Linked DNA regions of Homo sapiens. The protein of the gene in region 4 purifies or fractionates together with the protein of the main gene of each other region. This does not show direct contact. Each region holds a gene or a part of one and is shown on either strand. Other genes may lie near its edges. The genes, in order: PPP1R2, HSPB8, TTC5, CIAPIN1, CNN1, RAB5B and RNF20.

Region 1 (3,638 bases), on a different chromosome or scaffold from region 4:
GAATATTTATTTTTTTAAAAAACTGCTCTGAAGTCTGCCCAGTGTACCAAAAACATTAAAAAACAAAAACAAACAAAAACCCCCCAAAAACAAAAAACAGAGCAGACATTGGTGAAAGTTTAACCTGATAATTTATTTGTGGGGAAAAAAGCTAGTTTTGATGAGAAAAAGTTCAGTCCTTTCCTTGTAAACACAAAGAAACTCAACAGGAATTTTAAAAATAGTAGGTCAGAAAATGCAACAGTAACTCTTATAATTCTTTTCAATTAAACAGACAAATCAAGTTGAAGACAAGTGTTAAAATACTATTCAGCCTAAATATTTATCAGTCTATATATCCTGTTGTTCAATTGGCTTTTGATTTTTAAAAAAATCAAATCAATAAACTTTGTAAGAGCTACCACATTTCAAGTGATGAAAATAAATTAGTTCCCCCCCAAAGATATTGTTTAACTTCTAAAGCATAAAAAGCTCTATAATATCTTATACAAATTAACCAGTGTTTTTACAAAAGTAATGCAGTTTTGGACTGATGATATTACACTGTATTTGTGGTAAAGTACTAGGCACAAGAATATATATATCGATTAGGCATTTTCAGTCTAATCAGTCTCTAAGTTTATCATTTAATTCTTGGCAATATATAATAACTGGTATGCATTTTGGTACTTAAGTCATGAATTGTGAAGAACAAGAAGCAACGTACTATAGTCACAGGGTTTACATCTAACAAACAATTGCAGTGTTGAACAAATCTCGTCTATGAACTTCGTAATTTGTTTTGCTGTTGGTCACTTGGAGTAGATCCTGCAAAGATAAAAGAAAAAGTCAACATAATTTGTTATATGTTGTCAACCCTGGCTAAAGTTCCCTTCTATTAGCATGCATGACAAGCAAATATAAAAATTTTAAAAACAAATAAGGTATATTTCATGTAGGCTGATTTAGACTGAAATTGAAGAATCTATACACTCCCCTAAATAGTCTAAAGAACAGAAGTGTCTACTTGCTGATAAAACAAACAGGTTTCAGATTGAACATTTCTGTAAGTCACAGGTGGAAAGGTAAGAGTTTACGACAACTCCAATATCCAGAGCTATAAAAAGATACATATTTATTACCTGAAAGCTATAAAATATCACCTAAGAGTCCAAACATGTCATTTTCTCCAATGAATTGTGTGAATGGGGGAGGAAAGGGGGAAGGGAGGAGACTGGCACTGTCCCAAAACTAATGGGTTCTATAGAACTTAGAGATCTGAAAAGCTGGTAAAATGTTAAGGGCCCAAAAAGGGTAGGGGGTAAATAAGGTACTTATTTCCCTAAGTCTTATCCTATTCTTGTGGGTTTTATAATGCTAAGCAGGATATACTCCTTTGCAAGGTGTACTTCATCTCCAGTGAAGAAAAATCAGGCACTGACCTAATACAAAATTTTAATCCTCCATTAAACTTAAACAAAAAATATATTTATGTACTAAATATGTGAAATGTAATATCTTATAAGCAGAGACGGACAAAATGCCATAGTTATTTTTCAAAAGAAATGGCGTTAAAACAAACAAACAAAAAACGCTGCCTCTATAACAAAAAATAAAATAAAAATAAAAATGGATAATAAAAACATGCCACAGCTACTATGTAAGATGAAGTTTGCTCAAGTTAAATATAAGTTAAACAGACTATGGGATATATAATGGAAATGAAAGGCTATATGAAATAGACTAAAAGGTTGAAGCATATTACGGAATAACAAAAAGTACTGTAATCCTGACACTATGAGACAGCAACTCATCAGGCTGTATCATAGAATTATTCATATTTAATACTATGCTTACCAAAATGGTAATACAATAATTATTTAATTTCCTAAGACTTAACCATTCTGGGCACCACAAATAACATCAGTTACGCCTCCACTGAAAAGTATGAAGTTTGTAAGTACAAGGAGTAGGTGGTGGGCACAAAAAATCTCCATTAGTGATGCAGAAGATTCACTTCATTAAATACCAGAGTAACAGTTCATAAAAAATAAATAAAACCTATTTCCTATGACAGATCAGGAGTTGCTAGGCTGCAGGGGCTGGGTGTCTAAGACTTAAAAAAAAAATAAAAACAAAAACAGTTAAATAACTTGTCAATCCAACAGTCAAAAGAATCCGTATTGGAAAGATATGACATACTTTGTATCTAACGGGATGTAAAACCAAATCTTCCATACTAAAAACATGTTTCAGGCTGGGCGCGGTGGCTCATGCCTGTAATCCCAGCACTTTGGGAGGCCGAGGCGGGCGGATCACAAGGTCAGGAGATTGGGACCATCCTGGCTAACATGGTGAAACCCCATCTCTACTAAAAATACAAAAAATCAGCCAGGCGTGGTGGCAGGCGCCTGTAATCCCAGCTACTCGGGAGGCTGAGGCAGGAGAATGGCGGGAACCCAGGAGGCGGAGCTTGCAGTGAGCCGAGATCACGCCACTGCACTCCAGCCTGGGTGACAGAGCGAGACTCTGTCTCAAAAAAAAAAAAAAAGTTTCATTTAAAAATTTTAAATTTTAGATCGTTATGACAAATACAACATGACCTAAAATATTCAAAACAAAATATAGCTTAATATGAAGACAAACATCCTTGCCTAAAGGCAAGTAAACCATAAGAAAGCCATATAATAAAACATATGGTCTAAAATCAAATCAACTCTAGGTATAAAAACTTTATTATTCTGAAATTGGCCATGCGGGTTAAAACTTTAGAAACATTTGGTATAATAAAGCGAATCTCAGCAAAATTTTCTGTTTTTTCACAAGTTTAAAGCAAAATAAAGTACATTATCTTAGGCATAGACCATTACAAAAGTCTCAGTGACATTTTCCAAACATCTAACCTTGATTTGATTCTTCCGTATTCATGCTTTCTCCATCTGCAGTCTCTAACATTTCTTCATCTTCATCATCATCATGTAGGTCTTTTGAAATTAATTGTCTGGCTAGTTTGATATTGAGTCCTTCATTGTAGTGAAGCTTCCTTTTCATTTCAAATTGTCGCTTTTTTTCTATAAGATGCAAAATGTAAACTTAGGAAGTTTGAGCTCAAGGATTGGCCCATGCCTGTTTTATAAATAAAATTTTATTGAAACAGTGATGCTCATTTGTTTTTGTCATGCTTAAGGCTGCTTTTGTGTTCAATGGCAGAGTTGAGTAGTTCGTAATAGAGACCACTGGGCCCTGCAAAATTTAAAATATTTACTATCTGGCATTCATCTCAATGGAAGAACAAGAATATATCCAGCCATTAGAAATTATATTTGTGAAGAAAGATTAAAGCTATGGGAAAATTATCCAGAAAGAGTTAAATGGTGACAAAAGAGCGAGTTACAACACCATATACTATATTTACTATGTACAATGCCTGTCACATACACACACAGAGAGAAAAATAAGACTCAGCAATTAACAGTGTTTAATTCTGAGTCAAGGAACAATGAAGTAGTTTTAATATTTTATTATTTTCTATTTTTATAATTAAGAAAAAATCCTTTAAAACAATTCTTACCTGTTAAGAAACTGCCATGATTTAAGACATTGTTGGCTAAAAACGTAACCTCATTTTCAGAGTAATTTTAAGAAAAACGTATTATAAA
Region 2 (4,097 bases), on a different chromosome or scaffold from region 4:
TGTGCCAAAATGAAGAGGAGGCCCCAGGCCATGGGGGGCTCCTGGCCACGAGGGGCTGTTGCGGCGGCGCCAGGGCACAGGGTGGGCGAGACACAGCAGAGGTCCTGGCAGCGCGGCCCAGGTCCCCGGCATCTCCTCCCATGGGTCGCGGTTACTTATACAGGGAGAGCGACTGCATTCGTTTTCCTGACAATGTGGCATCATCTTTTGCTTTCCTTTCCTCTTCCTTCTTCCGGGCAGCCTCCTCCCGCTGTTTCCGGATGATGGCCAGCGGGCCAGGTCAGCCTTGGCTTGCTCTGTCTTCCCGGCCAAGTGCATTTTCATGTAACGCTCTTTTGCCTTCTGCTTCTCAATCTCTTCTCGTTCTCTCCTCGAAAGCTCCTTTGGCCCATCCAGATACAGTTGTGTGACCTTTTTGGTTGTCTGTGCCACCTGGTTGGGGTTCTCGATGTTGAAGAGCCCTTCAACGCCTTTGCGGTTTTGCTGGTAGTCATCTTCTTCATCCTCACTCTCATCTGAGTCTAGAGATTTCTTCTCCTTTTTGGGGTCACCTGCAGCCCCATCTCCACCTTCTTTTTGCTCCTCTTCTTCCCTGGCCTTCTGCTTCTCAGCCTGCAGCTGTACGTCGATCTCCTCAGGGCTCCTATACTGCCTCGCCCAGCCTTTGTGGCCTCCCTTTCTCCCTCCTTTAGGCATCGCGGCTCCGCGCAACATTACTTTAAGCCACAGCATTGCTAACTGATGTTGTATATCTAGGTGGTATTACATTTAGTTCCTCATTAAAAGAACCACACAAGGCTAAGAACGTCAGCTCCTTTATTATTATTATTATTATTATTAATTATTTACTGTTATTTACCCCTAAACAACAGCATAACTCAAATAATAATGACACACACGTCCCGCCCATATACACAATACCACTAGCCTATCTGTCAGGCTATCTGGCCTTTGCTTGGTTCCTGATGGAGCTGTCTGGAGACAGCTCCCTCTGTAAAAATCCCGACTTAAACACAGGGGACAGAAGAAAGGGGGGACCTAGGTCAGATCATAAACTGACAGGCTCCCAGCGTCCTTAGGGAGTGCTAATGTGGAAACTTTGAGAACGTGCTGGACACATCTGGGCAGAGGGCAGAAGGCACTGTTTGTTTTTATGTGGTTGATGGATAAATTCCATATGGGGATATAAGACCTGTATATCACCCATTTTAGGCCAGGCATGTGGAAGCACAGTGGGGTTAGCTACTGGGTTTCATTAACCAAACCATGCGGCATGGTTTGGGAGCCATGGGAATCGGGAGCCCAGAGTAGGAACCTGGGTGATGGGGGAGGTCCCCAGAGAAAAGTAACCCTTGCATTCACTGCAAGTAAGATACAACGTGAAATGTTAAGTCCCCTTTTATGTGTTTTGCAACTATAGAATGTGCAACATTTTCATCAAGATAGAAAAGGTAAAGAAAGCAAAACTAGTATTTTGGCCTAACACAACCAAGCATGATTTGCCAATTGCGCTATCCTGTGGAGAAATCTACCACTACACTATCCAGGGAATCTGTGGTCAGTCCTCACCCCCGCACCCTCTAACATTTTACTTGCACTAAATCTGAGTTCAGCTAAAGTAATGTATCCTGGAATCAGAGAAGCCCTAGGGTTGGGGACAAAACAAGGATGGGCCAGTACTGGCATCTCAGGTACAGGTGACTTCCTGGCTGTCCTGGGGAAGCTCGTTGTTGAAACTGCTCTCTCCAAATGTTGAGTAAGGAGGGACCTGGGGAGCTTCGATGATCAGCAGACCCTCTGGGGAAAGTGAGGCAAATACTGTCACAGGATCCACCTCTGCAGGAAGCCTAGGAGAAACACACGATTTTATTCATTTATTGTTGTTAATATTGCTTAAACATTCTTTTATTCACTTGAGAGGAAATATTTTTGATAAGAGCTTAGGCTTTGGGGACATACAATGTTGGGTTTGAATCCTGGCTCTACCCCTTTCTAGCTGTGTGGTCTTGGGAAGATTATTCAGTTGCTCTGAGCTTGTTTTCTCATCTGCAAAATGAGGATAATAATACTGAACTTGTAGAGTATTTGAACTTCAGAGTCTGAGTATGCTTTGCAAATGGTAAAATGCTGTTTGAACAGTAGTTCTTAACTTAAAAGAGAGCTGTGGCCCACATATTTGGTCCCAGGTTGAAGTCATCACCTTAATACCCACTACTGACCACAATTACTAGCAGAAATGGCACCACTACCATCCCTTTATAGAGCGCAAGTAAGGTGTTATCATAACAGGCAACACATTTTCATCTGACATGTGCTTGCTGGAGAGTGCTTCACTACAAAATGCATTAATGGTGATGCAAGCACTAGGTACCTTGGTGGATAAAAGGGGCCAAGCTGGCCACATGTAGATTTCAGATGGCAACATACTCGATGGTATTCAAAATAAGCCTTGATTTTGTTCATACCCTAAGTATCTCTGATGTGGTTTGGCTGTGTCCACCTAAATCTCATATTGAATTGTAGCTCCCATAATTCCCATACGTTGTGGGAGAGGCCTGATGGGAGATAATTGAATCATGGGTAGGGGGCAGTTTCCTCCATACTGTTCTCATGGTAGGGAATAAGTCTCACGAGATCTGACGGTTTTATAAGATTTTTTGCTTGGTTCTCATTTTCTCTCTTGTCTGCTGCCATGTAAGACGTGCCTTTCACCTTTTGCCATGATTGTGAGGCCTCCCCAGCCATGTGGAACTGTGAGTCCATTAAAACTCTTTTTTTCATATATATATCAATTATGTAGTCTCAGGTATGTCTTTATCAGCAGTGTGAAAACAGACTAATACAATCACTTAGCAGATCATTATTATCTTGTTCTTCCTTTTATTTTTTTGGGACAGAGTCTCACTCTGTCACCTAGGCTGGAGTTCAGTGGCGCGATCTTGGTTCACTGCAAGTTCCGCCTCCCAAGGTTCAAGCAATTCTCCTGCCTCAGCCTCCTGAGTAGTGTGGATTACAGACACCCACCACCATGCCTGGCTAATTTTTGTATTTTTAGTAGAGATGGGGTTTCACCATGTTGGCCAGGCTGGTCTCGAACTCCTGACCTTGTGATCCACCCACCTCAGCCTCCCAAAGTGCTGAGATAACAGGCGTGAGCCACCGAGCCCAGCCAATTATCTTGTTCTTAAAACTCAGTTATAGACAATACTTGGTTGGAGTATTGTAAGAGGATGATTAAGAGGTAAGAATTAATATGCCCATTCTACAGATCACTAAACAGAGACTTGGGGGAAATCAAATGACAAGCTCAACAAGTGAGAAAGCATCGAAGATGGAATTTCTAAACCTAAATCTGGTCCAACTTCTAATAAGGTATTTTTATGATTTTTGGATTGCTTTGGGTGAATGAGACTATTGAGAATTTGGTTTCTTCAACAAACTATTAAAACTGTGAGGACATATTAGTGATCTCATTGGGGTGCCATTATTTTTTTTAACCATGAAATCCATGACCTTCTGAGTACTTTCTATGTGCCAGGTACTTTAGCTGAATCATATCATTTTGGTGTTAACAATAATCCCACCAGGCAGATTCCATTGCTATCCCCATCTTACAGATGAGGAAATTGAGACTCAGAGAAGTGAACTGCTTTGCCCAAGGTTGCTCAGCTGGCAAATGGCAGATAGGAAATGGAATTGGAATCCTGGTCTCCAAACTCAGAGTATCTGACCATGATGCTCTCCTGCCTCCCCCAGCACCAGACATTTGAAAGAAGGACTATGGCAGGAAGGACCGGCAGTTCAATCAAAATCTTTCCACTGATCCCTGCTGGCTCTGCCTATTGTAAATACGAGGGTCTTGATGAAAGAACCAAGGCATGAGGTAAGCCCATTCCTGATCATAGGCAGGACTCCTTCTGGAGGGGCTGGGGAGTTTTTTTTTTTTCTTTCTTTCTTTCTTTTTTTGTGGGTACAACAACCTGTAGCCACATGAGCCGTATCTACCCAGGAGATTCCTTGCCAGATTGGAACCATGGAGATGAACAAGGCTGCTTCTGGGAAGCCCATTTGGAAGAAAAAGAGGGAACTAGAAAGCT
Region 3 (4,439 bases), on a different chromosome or scaffold from region 4:
TTTCCTTTGTGCTGAATTCGGTGAAGCCGCAGGTTGGGCTCAGGAATGGCTACAGAGTCTCCAATGAGCACTCCCCAGCTCTGCACTATATTGTACACCATCACTGCATAGCAAGGTCCATCTGAATCTACCAGGCCAAATGTACTACCAAGTAAAGACAGATTAGGAGAGAGGAAAACAAAAAGGTATGTGGGTAGGAAAGAAGAGCAGAAACAGTGGTTTAAAAATACTAGCAAAATACTGGACTTAAAGTCAGTGACAGGTAATTAAAATAAAATATAAAATTTAACTTAATTAAACTTTAAAAATAAAATACTAACAAAATAAACAAATGCTTTTTCTCAGTTACTCAGAAAACCTATGAGAGGTACCATCTTCCACTTTATATATCTGAGTCTTCATTTTTCTGAAACTCATCAGTCACTTTGCTAAGAACTTAGGACAAAGCACACTGAAGCCATTCAACAAATATTAATGATGAACTAGACCAACATGTTACAGTTGTAACATTATTCCTGGTCTATCAATTTAACTATCATACTCTTAACCAAAGCCTCTAACCATCACTGTCTGTGTAGTTTAACTCCACAAACTTTCACTGAATATTACATATGTGCCAAGCATTGTGTTTAGCAATAAGATACCAATCCAGCTATGAATGACCTATAGTCTAGCAGGAGTCAGACAATGAAGTCATCACTTACAGCACAGTGTGATGGGTGCTAGAATAGCTTTTCCCTTGTGCTGAATTCAATGAAGCCACAGATTGGGCTGTGGGAGCCCAGAGGACAAATATCTAAATCAAAATTGGAAAGCAGGGAAGATTTCCTGGAAGAGGTGACGCTCAAAGTGAATCTTAAAGGGTAAAAAACCAGCTGGGTTAAAAGAGAAAAATTAATCCTCGGTAAAAATGTTAAAAACCTCTGAGGGGATAGGAACAGAGATTTTGACTTGGAGGCAACATCAGGGAACTTCCCAGAATGGTGGTAATGATCTCTATTTGGGTTATACAGATATTTTCCATTTGTTAAAAGCTATGAAATGTACGCTTAAAATTGTACATTTCATTGTATGTAAATTTTACATAAAAAGAAAAAATTGAAACAAATACTGAACTCAGTTAATGACTGCATGCTAAAGTATGTAAAGTATATTGATCTCTGCAATTTACTCTGATAGCAGGATAAACAGACTGATATGTAATAAGCTAAGTAAAATAAAATATTAATGGTAGAATATAAGTGGATGAGAACACAAATGTTCAATGTAAAACTCTTTCAACTTAGCTATATGTTTGAAAATTTTTATACAAAATGTTGGGGGCAGAAGAGGATGTTAGCTATGTCAAGAAGAAGCTAGAGATTATCCAGGCAGAGTAACTGTATGTAAGACACAGAGGCATGAAAACAGCTGTTCTAAAACCAACAAAATTGTTCCATGGTTGAAACAAAAGGCACTGGTGGGAAAGAGACAAAAGATAATAGAAAGAGAAGCAGGGAGCAAATCATGAAGGACTTTGTATGCTAACCTAAGTAGTTCACACTTTATCCCAAAAGCTACATATAGTACCAGTAAGGGATCTTAAATAAGAAGTAGCAATGGTCAGATTTCCATCTAAGAAACATTTCTCTGGCAGCACTGTGGAACACTGGAGGAAACCAGAGAATCAGGGAGACCTATCTGGAGAAGTGATAAGGGGGTGAATTAAGGTGGTAAACACAGAGAAGTCAAGTCTATAGGACAAAAAAGGCAAATCTTTTTGGAGAATGGAGAAGCCTATTCTTCCAAAAGTCTTAATCAAGTGACTGAGAGGTGATACCATTCATTCACAAGGAATCCAGGGAGGAGAAGCAGGTTTACAGAGAAAGATTTAGGTGAGTAATACTGAAATACTGAGTTAGAGATTTCTTATTGGAACCCAGAAGCAGATGGTTATAGGAATCCAACACTTGGAAATGAAGCTTGGGCTGGAGATATATCTGTAAGCATATAGGAGGCTGCCAAAGCCTTGGGTTTATATGACATCACAGGGCAAGATGATCTATAGACAGGATGGAGAAGAATCACACTCATGCCATCACGTGACATGCCTGAATTCACAGGAAATATTGCAATCAAGCAAAGCACTCTCCTGATGAATCCAGTCAAAGCCTCAGAATCCTTCTACACAGTATGTCAGGCAACCACTGACAAGTGATCAAAGTTGGCAACTATAGGCCATCCTGATATAAAGAGAAAAAAGGAAAAAAACAAAAATAGAGTCCTGGGAACCTAAGATTTAAAAGTTAGGCAGAAAAAGAGAAACCAAGGAGTGGCAAAATATCTATTTGTTCTCAAGGTCCTCCAAAACCTACCTTTGTCTATATCCCTTTCTAATTCTTCTCAGCTCTAGGATTTGCTCTAGTAAACTAAACTGTTCTCAACTATCTTTTTGCCCTTCAACTCGTCAAATATACAAACCCCTAGAAAATGCCATGGAGAAAGCTTGGGCATATAATGGGAATTGTGAATATTTCTGTTTAGATGAACAGAAAGGATGTGAAAAGCAATAGTGAGAGATAAGTCAGAATGTTTTGGAACCATGCAATAGAAGTTGCTGGATCCAGTGCCTAGAAAGACAATGGTGATCCTAGGAAAATAACAATTTCAGTAGAAAAGAGAAAGGGGAAACCGGTCAACCAGGGATTAGGAAGTGAGTGAAGGACCAAGGAGTGGTGGCATTCACTAAACCGTAACTTTTCAAGATCCAAAAATTTTCTAAACAAATATTCTTAATTCATTTCCTCTGCTGCTAGAAGCACCTGCACCTGGGTCCTTTACATTTCTTTTTTCTCACTCCCTATGACACATATATTACACACTCAATAAATATTTGTTGAATGACATCTAAGACAATCTCCCAACCAGACTTTAAATTATAACTCAAAGCTCACTTTTCAGAACTAAGTATACCTAAGTACAAACAGGACTAAGAAATTTGTCCTCCTTCAACTTCTATGATCATGAAAATGCAAAGGGACAGAAGAATTTTGAGGTTTCTGTCTTATAAAAAAATATGTCCTGCCAAATTTCAACTATGGATATAGGAATCCACATAGCACCAAACTCAGGGATACAAAATGGGCAGTGACAGAATCTACAAAAGCCTCTGATCAAAAGATGGTTAAACATCACCCAGACAATATCTGCCCACGGGATAGTCACAGAAGGAAATCAGAAGTCACAAATCTGTGACCACTGACAATCTCCTCAACTGCCAGGGAAAGAACAGGAAGTGAGAGCAATTAGTTCAAAAGGGTAAAATGGGGGAAATCCAAGAGAAACTCACAAGGGGACTTTCTCCTCTGTGGTGAGGCTAAATACCACCTTTCCCAGGATGACGGCACCGCTGTTCACCCCAGGCTGAAGCGTACTCAGTGGCTTGAGCTCCAGGGTCACTTTCTGCCCAGAGGCTGACTGATAGTGCCCATCACTGCAAGGGCCTAGATGGGCTGGGCGCAAGCTTCCCAGCATGCTCTGCAGCTTTTTGGTCTTCACCTTTCCCTGCAAAGAAGGGGAAATAGGTAAGAAGCTGGAAACTAGTCGCCTTCCTTGAGATTCTAATCCTTCCCTCCCACCCACTTCTATAGGGTCTCTACCTCGTAAACCTATTTATTCTTATTTTATTGACCCACGACAAAATAAAAAAAAAAAAAGTGGAATTCAGCCCTTCAGACATTTTTACCTTACTCTCAAGGAGGCTGGTTAATCTATCCAGGAATTCCAGAAGTTGTTGCTCTCGTTGCCGGGGCTCTGGCCAGGCAGGGTCCAGGGCTGCAGCCCGAGAGAAGCCCTCCAGGGCCTCCCCATAACTCTCTTCATATTTATGCAACTGTACAAGAAGTGTATCCCAATTATAAGTATATCCAGACAAACTATCCCGAGGGAATGGCACCATGGGCTAGGAATCTAGAGAAATAAACTGTTTTCCTTCCTGGTTATTTTCCTGTGCTGCAACAAACAGCCTGAAGAGCTGGTAACACCTTACATCCTTCTTCCTAGCCAAGATGATCACAACCCCAAAGATGGAATCATTTCAAAGAAGCTAATTTCCAAACTCTAAAATAGTTAAGTTGTATATATTGGCTCACTTGACCTTTATATTTACTTAACATTTCAGAAGTCTTCTAAAAGATCCCCCCATTCTCTACCTATTCTTCCACCTCCACAGCCCCTTCTCCTTTCCCTCCAGTGACTACACCAGATACTGAAGCCAAACCGAGCTAGCTATTTATAGAAATAGCATGGCTTTCCTCTCGCAGTCTGTACCCAATCTTGTCCCTATGCAAACTCAGTTATCCTCACAAGCTAAGACATAGGTGTCTTATTTATTTGACCCTCAGATGACTACACCCCAAAGGTCTTACCGTCGCCCTGTTCAGATGAAGGTCAGGATTGCT
Region 4 (3,638 bases):
TGTGGACTAAGGTCCCCTTTTTCTCGACTGTCTGCCAGCATGTGAGGAGCCTGCACTCACAGTTCCTTGCCAATGGCCCTCTCCCTACTTGGCAACTGATATGGTTAGGCTTCGTGTCCCCACCCAAATCTCATCTTGAATTGTAATCCCCATAATCCCCACGTGTCAAGCGAGAGGGGTGGAGGTAACTGAATCATGAGGGCGGTTTCCCCCATGCTGTTCTGATGATAGTGAGTTCTCACAAGATCTGATGGTTTTATAAGGGGCTCTTCCTCCTTTGCTCAGCATGTCTCCTCCCTGCCACCTTGTGAAGGAGGTGTCTTGCTTCCCCTTCGCCTTCCGCCATGATTGTAAGTTGCCTGAGGCCTCCCCAGCCATGCAGAACTGTGAGTCAATTAAACCTCTTCCCTTTAAAAATTACCCAGTCTCGGGCAGTTCTTTATAGTAGTATGAAAACAGACTAATACAGCACTTACTTCTTCATGGCTAGCAAGAGAAATTCTTCTCTAGTTCTTTTAAAGGATCAACTGATTGGGTCAAGCCTACTCAGGATAATCTCCCTTTTAATTAACTTCAAGTCCATTAGGGACTTTAATTACATCTGCAAAATCCCTTCACTTTTGCCACAGAAGGTAACCTAATCACAGTAGGGATTATCCCATCACATTCACAGGTCCTGCTGAAACTCAAGGGGGTTATTACACAAGGGCATGAGTCACTAGGGGTCATCTTAGACCTGTGTATAAAAGGGGCTTTGGAGCCAAACTTCAATTAGCCAAACAAACAACTAAAATCCACCAGCAGGGACTAGGATAAGCAAAGCAAACTTGGAGAATCAAATCAAGTTTCAAGGACAGATATCAATGAAAACTTTTATTTACTGGTAAAATATAAAAATCCAGGTCTCTTAAATCCACACAATCTCTCCAAATATTTGGCAAGATTGATTCCAAGTCCATATGGGTGGATAACAAGAACAAAGGGGTCTCTGCTCAGAGAGACGTATTGTCGTTCAGAGTTCTGCCCTGCTTCCCTCTAAATGCTCACCAACCTGGACTCTTCTAAAGTGGGCAGACAAGCCCTATTCTAAGCGTAGGAATAGCCCCATTTGTGCGTGACACTAAGTTCCTCCAATGGTCCAAACTGAGCGTGGATGACTATCCAACATCACACACAAATGCACATCCCCTCTCTTTACAAGACATGCAGAATCTCAAGATATGTCAAGATATGCAGCAAGTTTAATACCTGAAGGTTAACATAAATGACAACAGGACACAGATGCAATGCTACAGTCAAATGTGGTTGGGGATGGAAGGGGGCAGAGGGACACTGGATATCATCACAGCAACCAGTGAGTGAGTCCTCTGGTGCCCTGAGGAGGTTGTGAGCCACTTGACTCGTGTCACAAAGAATGGAGTAAACTAACAACTCTGAAAGACAAGAGGGTGGCAGCATTGCTGAGATGAGACTCAAGGCAGGGGTCTGCAGCTCTGTCACAGAGTGTTAATGCTCAACGATGCCTGGGCTCAAGAGCGTTCTGGTCAGCATTTTAACATCAGAAGAAGGGCTTCTTCAGGACACACTCCCTTCTCTTAACATGAGGTGAAGAAACCCATCCCATTCTGAAACCAGGTCCCATAATACCTTGGTCTTTTGATACACAGCAGCACTACACACCACTGTGCCCCCCAGCCAGCTTCACTCTGTCTGCTAAGCACCCACTCTGCAAACAGATCTCAGAGTGAACAAATCCAGAGGAGGTGGGAGGAGCCACCATGGTGGGATGTGAGGGACAGGAGTTGGCTGGAGGAGCAGATGGGTCCCATGTCAGGAACCTCCTAGGCATCATGAAGATTGCTATCACTCAGAAGCACCTTTTCCCCAGGTTTGAAGGCTGGCATCCCAAGGTAGGGGCAGCTGGCACAGCGGAAGGCATCGCCCAGGTAGCACTGGAGAGAGAGAATGGGGAAGCCAAGGGTCAGCTTATCCCAGGCATACCAGCCAGAAGAAAGAAATGCCTAATTTCATAATGTGGCCACAGTGGCCTGAAGGAAATGGCTATGTTTGCAGGTCCAATTGAGACCAAAATACTAAGAGTTTTCAAGATTTCTGGTTTCGTGAAAAACTATAGTCATGAAAAGTTCCCTAGGAGGCCATAGTTCTTTTTTTTTTGTTTTTGAGATGGAGTCTCCCTCTGTCACCCAGGCTGGAGTGCAGTGGCGCGATCTCAGCTCACTGCAAGCTTCGCCTCCTGGGTTCCCGCCATTCTCCTGCCTCAGCCTCCCAAGTAGCTGGGACTACAGGCGCCCGCTACCATGCCCGGCAAATTTTTTTGTATTTTTAGTAGAGACGGGGTTTCACCATGTTAGCCAGGATGGTCTCGATCTCCTGACCTCGTGATCCGCCCTCCTTGGCCTCCCAAAGTGCTGGGATTACAGGCGTGAGCCACCGCACCCGGCCTTTTTTTTTTTTTGAGATGGAGTCTCCCTCTGTCACCCAGGCTGGAGTGCAGTGGTGCGATCTCAGCTCACTCCACCTCCCAGGTTCAAGTGATTCTCCCGCCTCAGCCTCTGGCATAGCTGGAATTACACACGTGAGCCACTGCGCCCGGCCATAGTTCTATATTCTATGCAGTTCAAAACACAACCAACTTTAGCTAACTGTCTAACCATCAGGTCCCACTCTGAAGTACAAAGAAATGGGCCAAAAATAAAAAGCAACAAGACCCTCCCTGACCAGCACAAGCACGCTAACCCACTCTCACTCTCAGGAGACAGCCTCTCTCCCCATTACTACCTACGTTCGTGTGCTCACGCATTCGTCTGTTACTAAAATATTTGAGGTGGAGCTTGTCTGTGTTTAGTTTAGAAGAAGGTCTAATCCCCCTGGGGGTTTGTGAATGCTGAGGAATGATCCTGATATTTACGTTTCCACAAGCTGACTTGGGTTGGGAGCTCATCTGTTCCCTTGACTTCTCTTTTTCCAGTTCTTCGGCAAGGCCACAGGTGCTGCGGGAAAATCAGTAACTAATGAACGAGAATTGTCACCACCCAGAAATCCCAAATCCTAACAGTGCCAAAATGTGCTTTAAGCCTTTTCTCTTCACACCAGTGTCATAACTCAGAAGCCTATAGGCCAGGCAGACAGCAGCAATATGAGAGGCTGCTGAGGGAGACAGAAGTGGGAGGAGGATGAGGGAAGTACCGTGTGTGCTCTGTCTACAGAGGGCAGCCACTACTCAAGCTTCAGCTGGTTATCATGCTGGGGAAAGTGGACCCAGATTGCCATATTTTCCAAATTCAAGAACAGAAGGGAAAAAAATCTGTGTTTTCACTTGAAATTTCCTGATTTGTAAATGCTGGCAGCTTTTACATTTAAAAAACACTGATGATTAACGCTGATGATGAACATCACTGATTAACTTTCTACAATCCTTCCCATCCATTTATAAAAACAAATGTGAAGACACCAAGGTCTCGCTCTGATGCCCATGCTGGAGTGCAGTGGCACAATAGTGGCTTACTGGTAGGGTTTTGAGGGAGAGTGAAATTAGATACATGGCACAATTACGGCTCACTGCAGCCTCGACCTCCCAGGCTCAAGTGATCCTCCTGCCTTTGCCTCCCAAGTAGCTG
Region 5 (4,439 bases), on a different chromosome or scaffold from region 4:
ATGATCTCAGCTCACTGAAATCTCCATCTTGCACATTCAAGCAATTCTCCTGCCTCAGCCTCCGGAGTAGCTGGGATCACAGGTGGGCATCACCATGCCCGGATAATTTTTTGTATTTTTAGTAGAAATGGGGTTTCACCATGTTGGCCACGCTGGTCTCGAACTCCTGACCTCAGGTGATCCACCCACCTCACCCTCCCAAAGTGCTGGGATTACAGGGGTGAGCCACTGTGCCTGGCCCATTTTTTAGTTTATTTTTATATTTTATTTTGTTCTATTCTATTTTTTTGTTTTATTTTATTTTATTTGAGATAGCATCTCACTCTGTCGCCCAGGTTGGAGTGCAGCGGCACAATCTTGGCCCACTGCAACCTCTGCCTCCTGAGTTCAAGCAATTCTCCTGCCTCAGCCTCCTGAGTAGCTGGGACTACAGGTGTGCCCCACCACACCGGCTAGTTTTTGTATTTTTGGTAGTGACAGGGTTTCACCACGTTGGCCAGGCTGGCCTTGAACTCTTGACTTTAAGTGATCCGCCTGCCTCGGCCTCCCGAAGTGCTAGGATTACTGGCATGAGCCACCATACCCAGCCCATTTTCATTTTTAGAGACAGGGTCTCACTCTGTCGCCCAGGCTGGAGTCCAGTGATGCAATCATTGTAACCTTGAACTCCTGGGCTCAAGTGATTCTCCCACTTCAGCCTCCTAAGTAGCTGGGACCACAGGCAGACACCACTGCATTTGGCTAAACTCTTAAATTTGTTGTAGAGATGGCGGTGGAGGGGGGTTCTATTTTGCCCAGGCTGGTCTGAAACACCTGACCTCAAGCAATCCTCCTGCCTCAGCCTCCCCAAGTGCTGGAATTACAGGTGTGAGCCACTGCACCCCGCCTGAGGCATCCTTTCGAGACTGGAAACTGAGGCCCAGAGTGGGCCTATCACATGACTGACTTCTAGCATTGAAGTTCCAGCCTGCCACGCATCAGCTGGAAGATCTGTGCAAAAGCGAGCCAGCTTCTCCGGGTCTCAGTTTTCTCATCTGCGGAAAGGGTATGTTGATAACAAGCACCTGTCTGCTGGGGTGTTGGCAGAGTGAGTGAGTTTGTGAATGGAAGATGAGCATAAGCACAGTACCCGGCCTATAGTATAGTTAATGCCAAATATCCTGTCCCCAAAAGCCTTCAGACATCAGGGTGCCCTCCTGGCCTCTATGACCTCTGCGCAGTGAGGACAGGGCGGTACCTGCAGCCCAATGATGTTCCGCCCTTCTCTTAGCTTCCCCGGCTCGAATTTCCGCTCCTGCTTCTCTGCGTACTTCACTCCCACGTTCACCTTGTTTCCTTTCGTCTTCGCCTAGGTGGGGCAGGGAAAGCAGGGACTGACAAGGGGGCCTCCAGGCTGCACAGTCCCCTTGGACACTGTTTTTTTGTTGTTGTTGACACAGAGTCTCGCTCTGTTGCCCAGGCTGGAGTGCAGTGGCGTGATCTCAGCTCACTGCAAGCTCCGCCTCCCGGCTTCACACCATTCTCCTGCATCAGTCTCCCTAGTAGCTGGGACTACAAGCGCCTGCCACCATGCCCGGCTAATTTTGTTTTGTAGTTTTAGTAGAGACAGGGTTTCACCATGTTAGCCAGGATGGTCTCAATCTCCTGACCTTGTGATCCACCTGTCTCGGCCTCCCAAAGTGCTGGGATTACAGGCGTGAGCCACCGTGCCCGGCCAACACTGTTTTTTGTTTTTTGTTTTTTTTTTTTTGAGACGGAGTCTTGGCTCTGTCACCCAGGCTGGGCAGTGGCACGATCTCGGCTCACTGCAGACTCCGCCTCCCGGGTTCAAGCGATTCTCCTGCCTCAGCCTCCTGAGTAGCTGGGATTACAGGCATGCGTCACCACGTCCAGCTAATTTTTGTATTTTTAGTAGAGACGGGATTTCACCATGTTGGCCAGACTGGTCTCAAACTCCCGGCCTCAAGCAATCCGCTCACCTTGGCCTCCCAAAGTGCTGGGATTACAGGTGTGAGCGACCGCGCCCGGCCCCCTTGGACGCTGTTGACAGCACCTGCTCCCCGATCCCTGCCCCCCGCTCCGCCACCTTCACTGGGCTCAGGAGCACAAGTGGCCACACCTGCATCCCAGCCCAGGCTGCCCACCACCCCCTGCCCAGCCTGCAACCACACTCACCATGCTGGCCAAAGCCAGGAGGGTGGACTGCACCTGTGTATGGTTGGTGTTCTCAAACAGGTCGTTGGCCTCAAAAATGTCGTGGGGCTTCACCCCATACTTGGTGATGGCCTTGATGAAGTTGCCGATGTTCTCCAGCTAGAGGGGGGCAGGTGGTGGTCACTGGGTGGGGAGGGGAGGTCTGAGGGGCTTGCGGGCAAGGATGGAAGAGATTGTGTCTGGGCTCACCTGGTGCCAATTTTGGGTTGACTCATTGATCTTCTTCACGGAGCCTGGCTGCAGCTTATTGATGAATCTGAGAAGAGTGGGGAAGGGGTAAGAAAGGTGTCCCCCCAGGGTTGGGCACGGTGGCTCACGCCTGTAATCCCAGCACTTTGGGAGGCCAAGGCGGGTGGATCACGAGGTCAGGAGAGCGAGACTATCCTGGCCAACATGGTGAAACCCCATCTCTACTAAAAATACAAAAATTAGCCAGGCGTGGTGGCACATGCCTGTACTCCCAGCTACTCAGGAGGCTGAGGCAATCACTTGAACCCAGGAGGCGGAGGTTGCAGTGAGCTGAGATTGCAGCACTGCATTCCAGCTTGGGGACAGAGCGAGACTCCGTCTCAAAAAAAAAAAAAAAAGAAAGAAAGGTGTCCCCCACTCCCGCTCTCCAGCCCAGCCCAGCAGGAGGAGGGTGACGGGATGACCACAAGGGGCCATGCCATACCCTAGCGTCACTTCTCCCTGCAGTCAGCTCTCAGCTGCAGCCCCTCCAAACCACCCAAGCACACACACAAATGGGACACTGATGCCAAGGAGCTAGACTCAGGTCCCAGTCAGAAAGCCTGCTTATCCAAGGTGTGTCCGAGTCTCTGGGATCTCCGAAGCCTCACTGGCAGGCGTGTCTCAGCATCCTTTTCTCTTGTAGACAGCAGGAAGCCCACAAGGGCCTCTTCTCTGACTCACTCCTTTAATGATCTCGCCTCTTTTTTCTTTTCTTTTCTTTTTTTTTTCTTTTTGATGCAGGGTGTGGCTTTGTCGCCCAGGCTGGAGAGCAGTGGTGCAATCACAGCTCACTGCAGCCTCAACTTCCCAGGCTCCAGCGATCCTCCCACCTCAGCCTTCCGAGTAGCTGGGATCACAGGTGCGCACCACCATGCCTGGCTTTTTTTTTTTTTTTTTTTTTGGTAGAGAGGGGGTTTCACTGTATTTGTATTGCCCAAGCTGGTCTTGAACTCCTGGGCTCAAGCGATCCTCCTGCCTCAGCCTCCCAAAGCGCTGGGATTACAGGCATGAGTGACAGCACCTGGCCTCATTCAGTGTCTTGACTTTAAGTGCCTCCATATGCCAGCAACTCCCTCATCTCCCTGCAGCTTGGGTTTCTTACCATCTCATTCAGCTCTCTCCATGGGTGCCTGGGTGTCTCAAATCAAACTCACCCTGCTCCAGACTCCTGACATGCAGCTTCCCCCTCCAGACTCCCCCCTCCCTCCACCTTCCCTGCCTAGCAGTGCCCCCTTCTAGGTGCTCAGCCAGAGCCCTTGGACTTGCCCCCAACTCCCCCTTTCTCCTTCTCTCAGCCTCATGTCCAGTCCCTCCAAAGTTCTTTGGCTCTGCCTTTTAATGAGTCCAGAAAACCACCCACTGCTCCCCGCCACCTCCACCTGGGTCTCAGCCACCAGAGTCTGTTTCCTGGCCTCTTGTAATGAGCTCCCAACTTCCACTTCATCCCCTACAGACCCACCCTTCTTCATCCAGCAGCCAGAATTTTTTTTTTTTTTTCCGAGATGGAGTCTTGCTCTGTCACTCAGGCTGGAAGGCAGTGGCGGGATCTCGGCTCACTGCAACCTCTGTCTCCTGGGTTCAAGCAATTCTCCTGCCTCAGCCTCCTAAGTAGTTGGGATTACAGGTGCCTGCTACCATGCCCAGCTAAATTTTGTGTATTTTTAGTAGAGACGCGGTTTCACCATGTTGGTCAGGTTGGTTTCGAACTCCTGACCTCAAGTGATATGCCCACCTCAGCCTCCCAAAGTGCTGGGATTACAGGCATGAGCCACTGCCCCTGGCCCAGAATGGCCTTTTTTAAACAGTTCAAGTTACCGTCCAGTTCCAAATCCTCCAGGAGCCTCCCATTGCCTTCAGAATGAAATCCTAAGTCCTCTGCCTAAAATGCCCTCTGTAGAACTGGGCACAGTGGCTCACACCTGTAATCCCAGTGCTTTGGGAAGCCGAGACAGGAGGATGGCTTGAGCCTAGGAGTTTCAGATCAGCCTGGGCAA
Region 6 (4,439 bases), on a different chromosome or scaffold from region 4:
TTCAACTCCTGGGCTCCAGTGATTCTCCCACCACAGCCTCTGGAGTAGCTGGGATTACAGGCACATACCACCATGCCCAGCTAATTTTTTTAAATGTTTTCTAGAGACTCAGTCTCGCTATGTTGCCTAGGCTGGTCTCAAACTCCTCACCTCAAGCAAGGCTTCCCCTTTTATCTCCCAAACCCCTGGGATTACAGGCATGGGCCGCTCTGCCAGGCCTGTTTTTTCTCTTTTTCTTTCTCTGTACCACTTTCATATTGTGGCTTCTTCCCTGCCCCCGATCTCCCCCCTACCCACCCCAGGTGGAGTCTTGCTCTGTTACCCAGGCTGGAGTGTGGTGGCACGATCTCGGCTCACTGCAACCTCCGCCTCCCGGGTTTAAGCAGTTCTGCCTCAGCCTCCCGAGTAGGATTACAAATGCCGGCCACCAACCACACCCGGCTAATTTTTTTTTTTTTTTTTTAGACTGAGTCTCGCTGTTGCTCTGTCGCCAGGCTGGAGTACAGTGGTGCAATCTCAGCTCACTGCAACCTCCACCTCACAAGTTCAAGCAGTTCACCTGCCTCAACCTCCCAAGTAGCTGGGACTACAGGCACGCGCCACCACGCCCAGCTAATTTTTGTATTTTTAGTAGAGACGGGGTTTCACCATGTTTGCCAGGCTTGTCTCAAACTCCTGACCTCCTGATCTGCCTGCCTTTGCCTCCCAAAGTGCTGGGATTACAGGCGTGAGCCACTGTGCCCGCCTTTTATTTTTTGAGACGGAGTCTCGCTCTGTCACCCAGGCTGGAGCACAGTGGCGCATCAGCTCAGTGCACCCTCTACCTTCTGGGTTTAAGCGATTCTCCTGCCTCAGCCTCTGGAGTAGCTGGGATTACAGGTATGCACCACCACACCCAGCTAATTTTTTTTGTATTTTTAGTGGAGACGGGGTTTCACCATGTTGGCCAGGCAGGGCTCGAACTTCTGACCTCAGGTGATCCACCTCAGCCTCCCAAAGTGCTGGGATTATAGGTATGAGCTACTGCACCCAGGCTGTGGCTGCTTTTTAGGAATATATTGATAACAACTAATATTGAGATATATTTTAATAGCTATTAGCACTATGCTAAACACATCTTTCACTTATTATTTGTAGCTATGAGGATGGTATTTTTTCCATTTTACAAAGGTAGAAGGTAAGGCTTAGAGAGGTAGAGAAATTCTCTTTATATCATATTAGTAATGATTAGTAGCTTAATATTTATTTAGCACTTAGTATCTATCAAATACTTAAAATACTTTAGTTATTTATATGCATTATCTCATTTAATCCTTACAACACCCTTATGAAGTAGGTGCTTATAAGGCTATTATCTCATTTTACAGATGAGGAAATGAATGCACACATATATTTAGTGACTTGCTCAAGGTTCATAGCTAGTAAGTAGAGCTGAAAAACAAACGTGGAGAATTGGACTCCAGAGCCTTTATTCCTCTGAATTGCCTCCTGTATGATTTTCTGTCTTTACGATCTAGTAAGTGGGGTTACTGAAAATTTTTAACCCCAGTTTAACTCCAGTCCCACTAATTGTGGTGACAAAATAATGATGTTTCCCCACATATGCCATAGAGTATGATGTCTGTGAAGTCACTAGGATCTGCTTTGGAAAAGCGAAAGAGTAATTTGAACAAGCAAAGTACAACTCTCAAGCAATGCTTAGGTTTGGGAGAGAGGTTTTTGCATGCTCTGCCTATGCTAACTTCCCTTTGAATTTCATAGTTCCTTTCCGCTCAGAGTCAGGATGATGAAATGTATTCAGATTTAGACGATTAGAATCTCAAAGTCCCAACTCTTCTCTCTGTTCCCTGCCCCACCAGCAGCTTTCTTAGCCCTCTTAGAAGATAGAGGAGCTGATTCAGTGTATTCTTTCATCAAATACTGATTGCTTGCAGACTTAACGCCCTATACCATCCTCTGGAGACTTCTGCATGTCTTTAGAAGGTATACCTTTCTCTGCCTCTAATTTGGAGGGCTACAGCTGTTAGGCCCCTTTGGTGTGGAGGGTAATCTAATCCCTAGGCACCAGCAAGACAGCTGCAAGTTGAGAGTAGGTCAAGCTTACTGATTCTTGATAGACTTTCAGATTTGGAAAGATGGCAGAAACAAAGTGAAAAAAGAGTTGTTAATGAAACAAAGAGTTGATAATGAATGTGATCTGTTGGTTGTATTTCTCTCTTTACCTTCAACCAAAAATGAGAAAGGATAGATTTTGTGGCAATGGGACCCTGGTTAGATCTTTAGAAATGTCTTATCAGGGAGACCGGTCATATATAAAGGATACAGCAGCAACTACCCTTCTGCCCTTAGGAGTGGTGACTCTTATCCCACACCCCTAGAGTGAATCTCTCATTTTGACAAAGAGCTAAGGAAAAATGAAAAGAAGGCCAGGCACGGTGGCTCATGCCTGTAATATCAGCACTTTGGAAGGCCAAGGCGGGCAGATCACCTGAGGTCAGGACTTCTTAGACTAGTCTGACCAACATGGAGAAACTCCGTCTCTACTAAAAATACAAAATTAGCCAGGCGTGGTGGTGCATGCCTGTAATCCCAGCTACTCGGGAGACTGAGGTGGGAGAATTGCTTGAACCCGGGAGGCAGAGGTTGTGGTGAGCCAAGATTGTGCCATTGCACTCCAGCCTGGGCAACAAGAGTGACGTCTCAAAAAAAAAGAAGAAAAGGAAAAGAAGAGCACAGCACCAGGATGCCAAGGAGATACTGGGGATCTAGGGTACCGGTGGGTGGATCTGGATATTCTTCAGGCCAGCTAAAGGTTGATCACTTTGTGTGACTCAAACAAAAAACTTTGAAGACCTGGTGGGGAATTACTGGGGAATTAAAAACTCTCAGTTTTCAGTCTCTCTATTTCGGCTCCCTTGGCAGTTAGAGATTATGTGGTAGGGCAGACTCCAGAAGCAGTTCTTATTTTGCTCTTCCCAACTCTTACCACTGAGGATCAGCTGCCTGGGACCTTCTCAGAGCTAAGTCCTCATAGAAGCAAGGAGATGAAGAGGTTCTATCCTTCTCTGAAAAGCGATTGCAGCTTCAATGGACGTATGTTTAATTTTATTCACTTTTTTTTCTTGCAGGAGTGTTGAAGCCTGGAAATCCCCTCCCCTTCCCCCTCCCCCCTTTACAGTATCCCCCTCCCTCCACCCTTTCCCATTCTGATAATCTGGCCATGACTAGCAGAAGCACAGCTAGGCCCAATGGGCAACCCCAGGCCAGCAAAATTTGCCAGTTCAAATTGGTCCTGCTGGGAGAATCTGCAGTGGGAAAGTCAAGCCTGGTATTACGTTTTGTCAAAGGGCAGTTCCATGAGTACCAGGAGAGCACCATTGGAGGTGAGTGCCTTGGGGTAATAGGAGATTGAATGTTTGGTAAGGGTTTTTTTTTTTTTAGATGGAGTCTTGCTCTGTTACCCAGGCTGGAGTGCAGTGGCGCAATCTTGGCTTACTGCAACCTCTGTCTCCCAGGTTCGAGCGATTCTCATGCCTCAGCCTCCCGAGTAACTGGGATTACAGGTGCACACCGTGGCACCTGTCTAATTTTTGTATTTTTAGTGGAGAGGGGGTTTCACCATCATGTTGGCCAGGTTGGTCTCAAACTCCTGACCTCAGGTGATCTGCCTGCCTCGGCCTCCCAAAGTGCTGGGATTACAGGCGTGAGTCACCACGCCGGGCCGGTAAGGCTTTTGAAAAGAGATATAAGACCTGATTATGGAGCTGGCCCTCTTAGTCCCATTCTTTTCCCCAGAAATGGAAACCCTTTATAAAAACAGAGGCCGGTCCCAGTGGCCCACCACTTTGGGAGGCCAAGATGGGCGGATCACCTGAGGTCAGGAGTTCGAGACCAGCCTGCCCAACATGGCGAAATCCTGTCTCTACTAAAAATACAAAAAATTAGCCAGGCGTGGTGGCAGGCGCCTGTAATCCCAGCTACTCGGGAGGCTAAGGCAGGAGAATCACTTGAACCCAGGGGGCAGAGGTTGTAGTGAGCCGAGATTGCGCCACTGCACTCCACCCTGGGCGACAAGAGCAAAACTCCATCTCCAAAAAAAAAAAAAAATCAAAATCTGGTAAAATAGGCTGGGCATGGTGGGTCACACCTGTAATCCCAGCATTTGGGAGGCCAAGGCAGGCGGATCACTTGAGGCCAGGAGTTCAAGACCAGCCTGGCCAACAAGGTGAAATCCCCGTCTCTACTAAAAATACAAAAAATTAGCTGGGCGTGGTGGCACATGCCTATAATTCCAGCTACTCAGGAGGCTGAGGTAGGAGAACTACTTGAACCCAGGAGATGGAGGTTGCAGTGAGCCAAGATTGCGCCATTGCACTCCAGCCTGGGTGACTAGAGTGAAAATCCGTCTCAAAAAAACAAAACAACAACAACAACAACAA
Region 7 (4,439 bases), on a different chromosome or scaffold from region 4:
AAAGATAAAAGACTTGAAGGTAAGAATTAAAACACACACACAAAAAGGAAAAATACACATTAACAATCAAAAAAAGACCAAAATAAAAAAGCAAATTTCACTGGCAATAACTTATTGTCAAGTAACATTTACTCAAAAAGTCAATTAAATAAAGAAAGTGAGTCCACCTGCTTGGCCATGGCTAGCTTCTTCTGTAGGTATTCTATCTGCTCCTCCACTGCCCGGATCTTCCTCAAGGCATCCTCATCAGCCATTTTCTTGTTCTCTTTCTTCTCTTTATCTTCCAGATCCTTGAGTCTTTGCCTTAGATCTTCCAACTATAAGAGGAAAGGAATTGCACAAAAATAAAAAGTTATAACACATTTTCAAAAATCAATTAATACTGTGCAAAGATAGAAGGTTCATAATACCAAAAGAGTCTTTACAGAATTATAGAACAAGGTACATAATATACTAAAACATTACATAACACCATCTGTTTTAACATCACTCCATTCTACTATGACATGCTTCTATAAGCAACACTTTTGAGAAGTGCACAGGTAACTTTCTTTAGAATAGTGGTTCCCATCCTTTTTTTTAGGCCTCAAAATTTTAAGAGCATAAGACATTCCTCCCAAAAGTAATGAAAAAGATTATCCCTGTAGCAATGAATTACATAGGAAAAACAAGGAATACATACTTTGGAAAGCCTACTCATAACCCCAGTAATTCAGATATATTTTACCATCCTATGGAGAGTTTTAAAATCTCTACTTCAGATGGTCTTTGAAAAGGCAGAAAATGTTGCACTTAAACACTTATTTTAAAGATAAAGAAAGAAATTATATCGTTGGCAAGTATAAAGGAAAATCCCACAAATGAAGATTTTAACCAGAAGGACAGGTAATAGCAGACTAGAATACCTCTGCCTTAGACTTCTTCTCAGCTGCCATCAGCTGAACTTTGTCTCTCTGTTCCTTTGGGGCAGAACGGTACATATCCAGCAATAGTTTCATCTCCTTTTGGCTCTCCTGTGCCTTCCTATGACAGGCGTAGTAGAGGGAGGGGAACAATGTAATAAGAAAATAAAGGTCATCAGAGCAAGGGAATTTTGATTGAGCAGAATATTTTAAAACAGTTTCATTTTACATTTCATATCACACCTAAAAGATAAAATTTTGCACAGACTATCAAAAGACTTTTGGATATGCTTAGAAAGTACAGAAAAGTAAGCTGTATAAAAATGAATCATTTCTCCCTTCAAAGTCCTCTAACAAAGTTATAAAACAGACATTTGTGTACTTGTTATATAGGCAAATTTCTGTGGCCCCCAACCCTGGGTAACTGAGATTCAGTAGGTCTGGGGATGGAGTTCAAAAATTTAAACAAGTGATTTAAACAAGTCACTCAGATGATTCTGATACCACACCAGAAAAAAAAAAAATTGCCTTAAAGAGTTCAAGAGGGAGAAATAAAAGGGAAAAATTTGAAAGTCTGAGATATACTGTTAATCCTAGATTTGACAGCTGAGTGATTAACCATCAGCCAAAGACTAAAACTTCACCTCTTATTAAATTACTAAACCTCTTAACTATACTTTTATATACCAAAAGAGTTCAAGCATTTTGAGCACAGTGGTCTCTCAAGTCCAAACATCAACAAAGGATCAACCATAGAAAGTAAGGAGCAAGAAGTAAGCCGTTCTGCCAGAGAAGTTATTGGTTATACAGGAGAAGGGCCAATGCATAAGGTTATGACACAGAAAAATTCAACAAGTTAAAGGTCTATCTTAGTGTGTCAATGTGTATAGGAGTAAATCTCCTAAGAAAGATATGGCATATTCACAAACCAGTTAACTCTCAGGCAAATAGATCAGATATTGTTCAAGTTACAGTGATATATAAATACTCCACTTAATATCATTTAAATTACAATTAACGCCAGCAATCTGCTCAAATCCAGTGAAGAGCAGTAGTTAATTCCCAATAATTCTCAGAAGTATTACCTCAATCATGACATCCTTTTCCTTAATTTGGATTCATAAAAATAAGGCTACCATCATCGGTTTGCTGATACTCGATCACTGAACCAAAGTACTAAATAGCCATGCAAGCCATTTTGGCTGTGCACTTGAACACGACTTGAAACCAAATTAATTGTACAATCTAAAACATTAAAACGATCAGACAAGCCATGCCATCAACCAAACATTTCATGCATGATGTCTTAATCTTAGCTTTTCAGTCGAAACTGTTACTCTAAATGTGGTTCTTACTTGAGTTCAATCTTCAATTGTTTGATAATTTCTGCTTCCTTTTTCCGTCCATCATCATGTTTGCCTTTCTCTTTATCCTTAGCAGAATCTCTCTCTTTTTCTGACTCTTTTAGCTTCTGCTTCTCTCGTTCTCTCTCCTTCTCCTTCTCCCGTTCTCTTTCTCGTTCCCTCTCCTTCTCCCTCCTTTCTCGTTCTCGTTCTTCTTCATCCCGTTTAGACTTGATTTCATTGGCATCCTCCTGAGATGCCTTTGAAGCTGAGGACTGGGAGGATAAGTCCTCAGAATCTGGTTTTAGCTCCGCAGGCTCATCCTTCGGGTCCTCAGTACTAGACTGGGACTGCAGGAGGGCACTACCACTACGCAGGCGTGTCTGGGAGAATAAAGAAAAGAAAGATGCACATCTCTTATGATAACCACATTGCCGACCTCATTCAAAAGCAGCTTTACGACATTAATAGCAAATGATATTTATTCTATTCCCTCTGGTTACCTTGTTCAGGTCAGACTGGGCTTCTCTCAATTTCCGCTTATATCTCAGGACCTCCCCTTTCAGCTGGTGATTGTGATTCTGGAGGCTACTGATGAGGTGGCGCATCTCCCTGTTTATAGGGCCTTAAATACAGGAACAACAATGTTATGAGGAACCGTGGTAAGGGCAAAGGCACAAGGAGAGAAAGAACAGAACACATCAGGAGGCACTGAGAAATAGGGAGAATTACCAAATAAAAGATTCCTTCTCAGAAGATGAAAACAAAACTGGTCAACTTGAGTTAAAAAACAAACATCCAGGCTGTGAACCAAAATGAATTATAGGATTTAAGGTACTTATGACTTCTGAGTTGAAGTCAGCATTAACAAACCCTGGGGTCTGTGTTGTATCTTTCAAGGAAGGTATTAAGAGCAAACTACAGCATGGAGTGAGAATCATTATACCTGCTTGTTCATTGGCAGCAAGGGTCTGCTCAAATTCTATCCTCAGCATTTCATACTCCTTGCGGACCTGGGCCAATGTATCTTCTAGCTGAATTACTTCAGTCCTCAGCTTCTTATGAAGACTAACCTCATCTCGCTACACACAGATAAAGGAACCAATAAAAAAATTCTTATTAAAATGTAGAAATATCATCATATTCTATGGATTACTCTGAAAATTTCCAGTTCAATCTATACGTAATGAAACCAGATATCTACAAAAGACTAATTTGGAAACTGACAGGATACTGAAAAATAAAGAAAATGGCCACCAATTCTGAGAATATTAGAATTTAGTTGGAGAACTAAACTATAAAACAGTATATAAACATATGTAAAATAGTATTCAATTCATTTGTCAGGCATATATTAAAAGACCAACTATTATAACCATTACCTTAAAAACTATGGAAGATACAGAAATGAACATATGAATAAAAGTTTCTATCTTTTAAAAAAATCATCTACTGGTGCCATTATATGCTTTTTGTTTAAGAAATGTAAGTAATTTTGCAGCTTCTACCCACTATTTTCTCACATACACGTAAGCTCTAGCCATATTAAACTATTTCTCATGCTCTCTCATACCTTTATATGTGCTGTTCTCATGCCGGGAATTCTTCTTCTCCTACTTTCAACTACCAATAATTTATCCTTAATATTTATACCTTACTTTTTTAAGTGGAATCAGGAAACTTCCACAGTCAAATCAGACACTCTTTTCTCATGTATCACATCTTTTGGCTATGCTGCCATTGTACCACATTGCATTCTAATGGATACTATTCTCCCATTACTGCAGACTACAAGATCTGTGAGGGCAGGAATTTTGTCATCTCATCTTTATATGCCCAGTACCTACCAGAGTAAAGACCTACTGCCACTCTATGAATGACAGCTGAATGAATGAGAGATTAATTGCACATGAGGGAGTAAAATTGTAAAATTTAGGAGGCAAGAAAGCTTACATACAAAAGACAAGGCAAGGCTATTACCTCAATAAGCTCAACCTGGTGCTGGTGGGTTCCTCTGGTGCCATGAAGCAGGGTCCGAGCCTCATCCAAGTGTGCTTTCAACTGTAGGCTCTCATTATACAAGACGGAGAACTGTGACTGCATGCAGCGATATTCTGGAGTTTCCTTAACGACTTGCTCCACTGCACTCCGCAATTCCACCTTAGGAGGGCCCAAAGCAAAGTCAGAAGCAGAA

The links.
Region 1: the proteins of CIAPIN1 (region 4) and PPP1R2 fractionate together in Homo sapiens (co-fractionation; one large-scale study listed by BioGRID). This does not show direct contact.
Region 2: the proteins of CIAPIN1 (region 4) and HSPB8 fractionate together in Homo sapiens (co-fractionation; one large-scale study listed by BioGRID). This does not show direct contact.
Region 3: the proteins of CIAPIN1 (region 4) and TTC5 fractionate together in Homo sapiens (co-fractionation; one large-scale study listed by BioGRID). This does not show direct contact.
Region 5: the proteins of CIAPIN1 (region 4) and CNN1 purify together in Homo sapiens (affinity purification with mass spectrometry; one large-scale study listed by BioGRID and IntAct). This does not show direct contact.
Region 6: the proteins of CIAPIN1 (region 4) and RAB5B fractionate together in Homo sapiens (co-fractionation; one large-scale study listed by BioGRID). This does not show direct contact.
Region 7: the proteins of CIAPIN1 (region 4) and RNF20 fractionate together in Homo sapiens (co-fractionation; one large-scale study listed by BioGRID). This does not show direct contact.

Annotation. Positions count from the first base shown.
Region 1 is NC_000003.12:195,516,136-195,519,773, forward strand, and holds part of PPP1R2 (protein phosphatase inhibitor 2), read right to left. Parts: intron 3,051-3,638; coding exon 2,883-3,050; intron 808-2,882; coding exon 761-807; 3' UTR 1-760. UniProt on the Homo sapiens protein: Inhibitor of protein-phosphatase 1.
Region 2 is NC_000012.12:119,191,449-119,195,545, reverse strand, and holds the end of HSPB8 (heat shock protein beta-8), read right to left. Parts: intron 1,848-4,097; coding exon 1,688-1,847; 3' UTR 800-1,687; downstream 1-799. UniProt on the Homo sapiens protein: Involved in the chaperone-assisted selective autophagy (CASA), a crucial process for protein quality control, particularly in mechanical strained cells and tissues such as muscle. Displays temperature-dependent chaperone activity.
Region 3 is NC_000014.9:20,291,984-20,296,422, forward strand, and holds part of TTC5 (tetratricopeptide repeat protein 5), read right to left. Parts: coding exon 4,407-4,439; intron 3,872-4,406; coding exon 3,725-3,871; intron 3,544-3,724; coding exon 3,329-3,543; intron 145-3,328; coding exon 1-144. UniProt on the Homo sapiens protein: Cofactor involved in the regulation of various cellular mechanisms such as actin regulation, autophagy, chromatin regulation and DNA repair.
Region 4 is NC_000016.10:57,427,329-57,430,966, forward strand, and holds the end of CIAPIN1 (anamorsin), read right to left. Parts: intron 3,012-3,638; coding exon 2,930-3,011; intron 1,953-2,929; coding exon 1,842-1,952; 3' UTR 859-1,841; downstream 1-858. UniProt on the Homo sapiens protein: Component of the cytosolic iron-sulfur (Fe-S) protein assembly (CIA) machinery required for the maturation of extramitochondrial Fe-S proteins.
Region 5 is NC_000019.10:11,544,706-11,549,144, reverse strand, and holds part of CNN1 (calponin-1), read right to left. Parts: intron 2,471-4,439; coding exon 2,404-2,470; intron 2,314-2,403; coding exon 2,176-2,313; intron 1,349-2,175; coding exon 1,238-1,348; intron 1-1,237. UniProt on the Homo sapiens protein: Thin filament-associated protein that is implicated in the regulation and modulation of smooth muscle contraction. It is capable of binding to actin, calmodulin and tropomyosin. The interaction of calponin with actin inhibits the actomyosin Mg-ATPase activity.
Region 6 is NC_000012.12:55,983,741-55,988,179, forward strand, and holds part of RAB5B (ras-related protein Rab-5B), read left to right. Parts: intron 1-3,128; coding exon of another isoform or gene 3,129-3,220; coding exon 3,221-3,383; intron 3,384-4,439. UniProt on the Homo sapiens protein: The small GTPases Rab are key regulators of intracellular membrane trafficking, from the formation of transport vesicles to their fusion with membranes.
Region 7 is NC_000009.12:101,550,572-101,555,010, reverse strand, and holds part of RNF20 (E3 ubiquitin-protein ligase BRE1A), read right to left. Parts: intron 4,406-4,439; coding exon 4,226-4,405; intron 3,328-4,225; coding exon 3,192-3,327; intron 2,871-3,191; coding exon 2,749-2,870; intron 2,629-2,748; coding exon 2,258-2,628; intron 1,024-2,257; coding exon 906-1,023; intron 318-905; coding exon 168-317; intron 1-167. UniProt on the Homo sapiens protein: Component of the RNF20/40 E3 ubiquitin-protein ligase complex that mediates monoubiquitination of 'Lys-120' of histone H2B (H2BK120ub1).